Linked DNA regions of Homo sapiens: all the other regions are linked to region 1. Evidence: fine-mapped expression QTL. A gene starts in region 1. Each other region holds a variant in brackets. All regions are shown on one strand. Distances are between the middles of the regions. Region 1 holds the start of HIBCH (3-hydroxyisobutyryl-CoA hydrolase). Region 2 overlaps AKAP19 (A-kinase anchoring protein 19). Region 3 overlaps INPP1 (inositol polyphosphate-1-phosphatase).

What was found. PIP is the estimated chance that this variant, and not a neighbour inherited with it, causes the effect. A credible set is the group of variants that fine-mapping cannot tell apart.
Region 2: its variant is the best candidate, but not a certain one, in a credible set for the expression of HIBCH in whole blood (TOPMed, PIP 0.66).
Region 3: its variant is the best candidate, but not a certain one, in a credible set for the expression of HIBCH in fibroblasts (GTEx, PIP 0.50).

What each region holds. Positions count from the first base shown.
Region 1 is chr2:190,318,692-190,321,544 of GRCh38, forward strand. HIBCH (3-hydroxyisobutyryl-CoA hydrolase) reads right to left here and starts at 1,135. Exons shown (of 14, transcript NM_014362.4): 1 at 1,025-1,135. The coding sequence starts at 1,059.
Region 2 is chr2:190,202,157-190,205,009 of GRCh38, forward strand. AKAP19 (A-kinase anchoring protein 19) reads left to right here. Exons shown (of 2, transcript NM_001042519.2): 2 at 1-1,328. It overlaps HIBCH (3-hydroxyisobutyryl-CoA hydrolase), which reads right to left. Exons shown (of 14, transcript NM_014362.4): 14 at 1,764-2,853. Among named protein-coding and RNA genes, the nearest start is that of AKAP19, 23 kb to the left of the region's middle. The variant G/C (reference allele first, on the strand shown) is at 1,313.
Region 3 is chr2:190,365,807-190,368,306 of GRCh38, forward strand. It overlaps INPP1 (inositol polyphosphate-1-phosphatase), which reads left to right. Exons shown (of 7, transcript NM_001128928.2): 5 at 889-1,089. Among named protein-coding and RNA genes, the nearest start is that of INPP1, 23 kb to the left of the region's middle. The variant G/A (reference allele first, on the strand shown) is at 971.

The DNA of each region.
Region 1 (2,853 bases):
TCTCTATTTGCTATTTGCTGACAACACTGAAAAAGCGGCAGTAACGATTACGTGTACTGATTTTCTTAGCATTTACTAAATCTCTCCATGAGCTGGTGCAAGGACAACTAATTTTAAGGTATTAAAAAAACAAACAGAAAAGCAACTCTTAAATGTATAACAAAAATTTACTGAGAATTAGGTCTGTGGATACAGTGTTAGACATCTAGACACTTTCCCCTGAAACTATTCTTCTTAAGTCAAGGAAACACCTCCATCCCTTTTCAGGAAACCCAGAAGGCAAACTCTAAGGCTTAAAGAATCCAGTAATTTAAGTCGTCCTTATTTTAAAGAAATAAGGACGGTTCTCCCTTCAAGTGGGCGCAGCTGCTACCTGGTATGACAGTACAGGGCCAGGCAGTGGGCTGTTTAAGGCGCATGCAGCCTAAAGATGATGGCTACCAGATTTCCTAGGCTGAGCTCAAAGCGCAGTGAGGGGTACTTTCAAAAAGTTAAACAATGTTTGCAAACATGCTCCCCCATGCCACGTTAAATGTCCCTCAACACTAGCCTGAAAGTTCCAAATGCCTATACTGACGCTGCAGCCATGCAAGAAAGCTGAATAAAATCACACCACGGGCAGAGAGAGGTGCAGCAACTGGCAAAGCACCTGTGTGTGCTGGCTGCACAAAACATGCCGCACAGTTCCGCTAAGCTAAATCTGTCCGTGTCCCCAGACTGCACCCAACTTTTAAGAAAGGAAAGAAACTGAGGCCAAAAGAATTAAAGTCGTGTGGGGACAAGCCTGAATTAAGAGCCAGAGTGGCAGAAAACCAGAGTGCTGCTGCAAAGAAGATGCTAGAGGGAGAAAGGAAAGACAGGGACGGGGGCTGGGGCTTGGGGAGGGCCAAGGTTGGGGTCTCACAGCGGCGCCTCTGAGCGCGACTCGAAACTTCGAGGCCAGCAGTCTCCACCCCCGGCCCTTTTCCCACTGTGGCGAGTGCCGCTGAAGAGCCTGCCCTTGGCCCCTCGCTCTCTCACTCACCTCGACATGAGCCTCCACATCTCGCGCTGCCCCATCGCCAAACACTCCGAAGCTAAAGCAGCAGAGCGAGAATCTCCCGGACCGTTCCAGCGCCTCGCGTGAGCCCCGCCCACCGCCGTCCTGCGCCGCCGGGCACAGATGACAAGTCCTCCAGGAAGCCAGAGCGACCGTTTCCGCTACGCGACGGGGAAGGGCGGGGCAAGAACGACGCCTGGAGGAAATAGTTGAGGGAGAGGAAGGGATCGGGGACCGGGCCAGGGAGAAGGCGGAGAGCGAGCTGAGGCGGAGCGGGAAGAGGGAGGATAGAACGGACTAGGGCGGATTCGCAGGAAAGGAGATTGCCCTCTAGAGGCTGTCTTAGCCCAAAGCGCAACCTGTTGTCTAGGCTTGGCCTGCCAATTTGACCAGCAGGGACTGATGTGAAAGACTTTTCTGGAATTTTAGTAATTTTTTATTAAAACGTAAACTTAGTATTCTTTGAGACTCAAGTAGAGGAATTACAGTTGATAAAGGACATCGATGTAGTTTATTCATTCCTAACCCAATACAGCCGAATTCCTTTAATATTAGGATTGAGACATTTTCATTTTTCTTGGGAAAAGTTACAGATCTCCCACTCTTCCTCAAAGACACACAAGAGTTGTCTGATTAAGACATAATAGATATGTCTTCCCAACTAAAGTAAAAGTTGCTGTTATCAGTGGAAGCATAATTACATTCAGAAAGTAGCTTACTCTTAAATGAAACCAACATTTAACTCAACTACTAGGATCCACTGTTAAATTGAGGAAAACGTTCCTCCGCTTCCAGATCCACCCAGATGTGTAGCAGAAGACATTTCATCGCCACTATTAAGTATTGACACATTTATCAGAAAGAAGAAATCCGGTGACAAATTTCAGAGAGGACACATGAAAGGAGTTATTCTTAGTACCTTGATATTTAAAGAGATACACTGTTGAGACTTTGATCAAAAATTACGTTGCTAACCTAGGTCAAATGTAATAACCAAATGCCCACTGAGAAGAGGACAGACAACAGACATCACAGAAGGAACTCCTTACCTGCAATTTGGTTTTTAACTGGCTACAGGACATCACCATCTGACATCACCATCATGCCTCATTCACTGCGCACAGAAATGAACCATTCATCTGACCTAGCATGGTTTACTGGAAAAAGCATGGGCTTTCCTGTTAGTCAGACTGAGATTCAAATCTTCCTTGCCGCCCTAGCTTCATGTGTGTGAAACCTGAGTCTCACAAGGCCTCATCGTTAGAAGGGCCCTGTGCTTGTTTTAATGCTGTGCTATTAATAATTTTTGAACAAGGAAACACAAATTTTCATTTTACACTAGGCCTGCAAATTATGTAATCAGTCCTACCCCTAGCACACTAATAGTTTAATGACCTTGAACAAATTATATAGCTTTTCAGAACCTCCATTTTCTCATCTGAAAATGGATGTGCTGATGATTAGAGGTGTTTGTGAAGATCCATTGAAATATAGAAATATGTGCATAAATTACTTAGGACTTCGTAGGTATCAAGACCTGTCAGTTATGCCACACCTTCCACCAAGCTGTCCTTCCTATTCCTAAATTCTCTATTTCTTCTAATGATGCTATCGTCTTCTGGCTTCCCGCTCTAGAAACCTCAGTCCTTTAAAGAAAATTATCTTAACATTCTATTTTGAAGATTTTCAAACATATAGCAAAATTATAAAAATTTAAAGCAAACGCCTATGTGCTCACCACATAGATTCTACCTAGATTTACATTTTATCTTGCTTTATTCCTTATCCCAAATACCTTATTTTTAAATGCATTT
Region 2 (2,853 bases), 120 kb before region 1:
TGCCAGATCCATATCAACTAGAAGTCTGATTTCTGTTGCTGCCCTTCCTCAGCAACTATGGCAGTATACTTTTATCACCAAGCACCACTCCCTTGTCCCTGAATCACATTTTAATAGAGTACAATATCTTCTGTACAATATTTCTGAAACACTTATGTCTGAAATATATGCTGTATTGTATGTTAACCCATGACATATATGAACTACAAGGCTTGCATAATCAGTGAGCTAGTGGATAAATCAAGACAGGAGCAAATGGGAGAAAGATGAATAAACAAATGAAAAAAGATGAATAAATGAATAAGAGAGATGAATAAACAAATTTACATTACATGTGATAGTTATCATGGTATGGCCTTCATGACAAGATGGATGAGAATATCACTGATAGGATATTAGCCTTCTTTCATATCTTTATATTGAAATATGGGCTTTACTTCAATTTGAAGGTCTTTCATGAACAATAAAAGAGAGTAGAAGGACTGTCTGAGAAGGCAGGAGACATATAAAACAGATGACTGAAAGACTGACTAGCTCCTGGAAAGGGAAACATTTGGAACATCCAGAGTAAGGGCAAATGGGCTTCTACCAGCACAACAAAGAGCCTCCAGGTGGCAACATGGAAGCAGGTTATCAGAGAAAATAAATGTGCAAATTCCTTATTTACAATGACTCACTTAACCCCACAAACATGTTTCACTGCTGCCTTCCCCAGTTGTCGCTTATGTACTGTTGTTACCTTTCAGTTACATGCCTTTGATCCTAAAATTCTCTACTTTTGTTGCCTTATCAGTTCTTTGCAATCTGCCTGTGGTTATCAGCACTTAAAGCACAATTTTGAAGGGGAAAAAAATGATAATCACCTTAGTCCCAAAGAAATAATTTGTCAAACTGCCTTATTAGTATTAAAAACAGACACACTGAATGAAGTAGCATGATACGCATATATCCTACTCAGTATCATTGGCCTTTTATCAAATGGGGAAACTATACTTTTGTATTACATAGTTTTAGAAATCGAAAGTTAGAGACTCTTTATAAGTAATGTCAAGGAACAGTAATTTAAAAACAAAGTTCTAACAAATATATTGTTTGCTTAATCACAATGCCCTCAACTTGTATTTGAATAACTAAATAGGACATGTCTTCCTTGGAGCTGTGGGCATTAGTTCAGAAGCACTACCTGCATCTTAATTTTCAAAACTTAAGTTTTATTAGCAAATCCTCTTCTCTGTAAGACTTAGCTATGAAGTGGTATATTTTTTCCAAATATTTTTCTGAAAACATTTGTTGTTGTAACTGCACAATAAAA[G/C]TCCAGTTGCAATTAACTAGTGTGAGCTCTTATTTAACTGAAGCAAATGCTTTCTGACAGTGTGTACTTTGAATTTTTTAACAATATAAAAGACAACATTTTCTGCATTGTTAACAAATATAGAGAACAAAAATCCATTTATACAAATAATTTCTTGGATCATTCAGGTCCAATTTAGGACCTTTAAGAGTATAAATGTAAATGTATCCGATATCATGGCATCTTTATTCCAGATCTGTTACTGAATTATTTGAAAGAAAAATGCTTCACATAAAACAGATTAAGAACTGAGAAAACATAAAGCAATACCTTCTGGGCTGCCATTTCCTCATCTATGAGAAGGGTGCAGGACATGATCTTTAATGTCTTTTTCAGTTCCGTTGGCTTTTTATTCTTACAAACCTGAAGTTCACTTAGTTTCTAAAGAGTATGGGATGAAGGAGAAACTATAACAAGTTACAAAAAATTTATTTTGTTTATAAACAAAAATTACAAACAAAAAATTATAAATTTTGTTTGTTAATTTATAAACTTACCTTTAAAATTAAACAAAAATTACAAACAAAAAACAAAATCATAAATTTTGTTTACTTTGTTAATTTATAAACTTACCTTTAGTTTAAAAATTATTCTTGCCTAGAACTTTAAGGTTCTGAGTCTGGAATACCTTTTAGTTCTTTCATACCTTAAAAAGTACTTACTTCATTAACAATATCAATTATTGAATATATCTTTTGAACAAAAGTCTTCTTGCTTTCAATTAATTTTTTTCTCCTGACTTGAACCTTGTTTGTAAGGATAATTATCACACAAAAGTCTTACGTAAATTATAAAAAAACAGAGTGTCTCTATCTAAGAGATTGGAGTTTCCTAATTTCTCATTCTACCAGATTAACAAATATCACAAATAACAAGAAAATAATCCTTTCAGTTTCACCATGGGATGGTATTCTGATTATTTTAGGGAAGACCAAGTCTGAGTTAATACTGAAGAGGGACGTTAATAAAAATCTTTTCTCTCTGCCCAAGGTTTCTAATGTTTATAAAAGGAGCTCTTCTGCTACAGTAACTCAGTTACTTTAAAACACACTCATATATGGAGAAAATTCTATGAGGCATTAACACAGTATCCAAAACAAAAATTCTATGAGGCATTAACACAGTATCCAAAACAATTTTCAGGGTCTTTATTTTTTATATTGTATACCTAAGTTGATTTCATCAACATACAAGCCAAACGAAGATCCCATTTCAATTAGATATACCACTCAAGAGAATCTCCAAAGATCTTCACATTTTTCCATCTTCTAAAACAAGGATTGACAAACTTTTTTCTGACAAAAACCAGACAGTAAATAATTAGGCTTTGTAGGCTTTACCATCTCTATTGCAACTACTCATTTCAAAGCAGCCACAGATAATATATAAACAGATGAGTATAGCTAGTTCCAATAAAGCTTTATTTGTGAATTCTGATAATTTTCACGTCATGAATTATTAGTCTTTGATTTCTTTTCCCAACCATTTAAAAATGCGGAAAC
Region 3 (2,500 bases), 47 kb after region 1:
CTCTCGCTCTCTCTGTCTCAATCTTTGTCTCATTCTCTCGCTGTCTCTCTCGCTCTCTGTCTCTCTTGCTCTGTCTCTCTCTGTGTCTCTTGCTCTGTCTCGCTCTCTTGCTCTGTCTCACTGTCTCTCGCTCACTGTCTGTCTCACTCTTTTGCTCTCTCTCGCTCTCTCGCTCTGTCTCGCTCTCTCTCGCTCTCTCGCTCTGTCTCGCTCTCTCTCGCTCGCTCTCTGTCTCACTCTTTTGCTCTCTCTGTCTCTCTGTCTCTTTCACTCTGTCTCTCTCAGTCTCTCCCTGAATCTCTCGCTCTCTGTCTCGCTCTGTCTCTCTTGCTCTCTCTCGCTCTTTCGCTGTCTCTCTCGCTCTTTGTCTCTTGCTCTCTGTCTCTTGCTCTGTCTCGCTCTCTCGCTCTGTCTCTCTCTTGCTTGCTCTCTGTCTCACTCTTTCCCTCTGTCTCTTTCACTCTTCCTGTCTCTCTCTCGCTCTCTGTCTCTCTCGCTCTGTCTCACTCTCTCTGTCTCACTCTCTCGCTCTGTCTCTCTCTTGCTTGCTCTGTCTCACTCTTTTGCTCTGTCTCTTTCACTCTCCCTGTCTGTCTCTCTTGCTCTCACTCTGTCTCACTCTGTCTCACTCTGTCTCACTCTCTCTGTCTTGCTCTCTCTGTCTCTCGCTCTTTTGCTGTGTCTCTCGCTCTCTCTGTGTGTCTCTCTCTCACTCTCTTGCTCTGTCTCTCTCGCTCTTTCGCTCTGTCTCGCTCTCTGTGTCTCTCGCTCTCTCTCTGTCTCTCTCTCTCGCTCTCTCTGTCTCTCTCACTCTTTAGCTCTCTCTCTCTGTTCTTTCTCCACTGAAACTCTTGAAATGTAATGGCTTATCGTGTGGCTTTACCCTAGGGGAAAAGATTACCTTGAGGTTGTGTTCAACAGAGGAGGAAACAGCAGAGCTTCTTAGCAAAGTCCTCAATGGTAACAAGGT[G/A]GCATCTGAAGCATTAGCCAGGGTTGTTCATCAGGATGTTGCCTTTACTGACCCAACTCTGGATTCCACAGAGATCAATGTTCCACAGGACATTTTGGGAATTTGGGTGGACCCCATAGGTAAGTATAGGAAAGTATGTTTGTTCTTATTTGCAATCTTTTTTTTGGTGGTGGGGTTGGGGATGGGTGTTGGAAAAATAAAAATTATTGAGTGTAGTTTAACTCTGCTAGAAGTTTTTAAAATTTTAAAGTTTTAAAACAATGAGAGTTGAGGTGTATGTGTCATGTGTTCTGTATATATACATATATATTATAGCCGTGTGTATATATATACATATCTATAACAGGTGTGTGTATATACACACACATACATACAGGCACACATGCAAAGATGAATTAACTTCTCTTCAAAAGACTTCAGGGACCAGACTGGTAAGTAAATGAGAGAATGAAGTGAGAGCAGTTATGACCAATTGAGCACACATACCATTTAAAGAGCACTTAGCTTTAGCAGATTGTTACCATATGGGAGTACAGGCCAGCTCTTCAGATTTTTAAAGAGAAACCAAAATCCAAGGTTTTCAGCGATATATCCCAATTTCTAACCGTTAGCTACTAATTCAGTTAAAGAAGGAAACAATCAAAAAAACACAGTACAGGTCAAGCAAAAAGCTGAATGTGACGCATGAGCAGTTTGTGAGCCCTGCATGAGCTCTACATTTTTTTTGGTCATGATTGTGATAGAACCATAATGTATAATCCATTGTTTTGAAAATGTAACCCTTTTTTTTGAGACAGAGTCTCGTGTTGCACACAGGCTGGAGTGCAGTGGCACAGTCAGAACTCACTCACTGCAGCCTTGTCCTCCTGAGCTCAAGCAATCCTCCTATCTCAGCTTCCCAAGTAGCTGGGACCCAAGTAGGTGGCAGAGTTGCATGCCACCTCACTAGGCTAATTTTTTATATTGTTTTTAGAGAAGGGGTTTTTACCATGTTTCCCAGGCTGGTCTCGAACTCCTGGGTTCAAGCGATCTGCCTGCCTTGGCCTCCTAAAGTGCTAGGATGATTACAGGCATGACCTACCATGCCCAGCCAGCCTTTATCTTCAATGATGCTATTAATACAAGTTCTAGGTAATAATTTTAATAAGCTCCCCCTTCCTTTTTTTTCTTCCCCACCCAACACAATGGGACCATTCAAGGACCAGGCAAACTCCTCTCTGGGCCCTTCCCATCCTACAAGTGCATTCACAGGATGATACTGAAATGGGTTTAATCTTCAGATAATTATATCACATTCAGCCAGTGGATGATATATGGAAACTAAAAACCTTTCCCCAAATCTTTGATCATTTAAGGGTAAATTGGCATCAGTTATAGTTTCTGAGGGACAGAGATCTCCTGTTTCTTGGTTCCACCCTGAATTGATTCTGTTTTTGAGCTCTTTGAGTCTTTTGCCAGGCACATCCTTAGCCGTGTGTTGACTCCCTAGACGTCAGCAGTCAGCTGCTGGCATGTACATCTCTTAAGGGG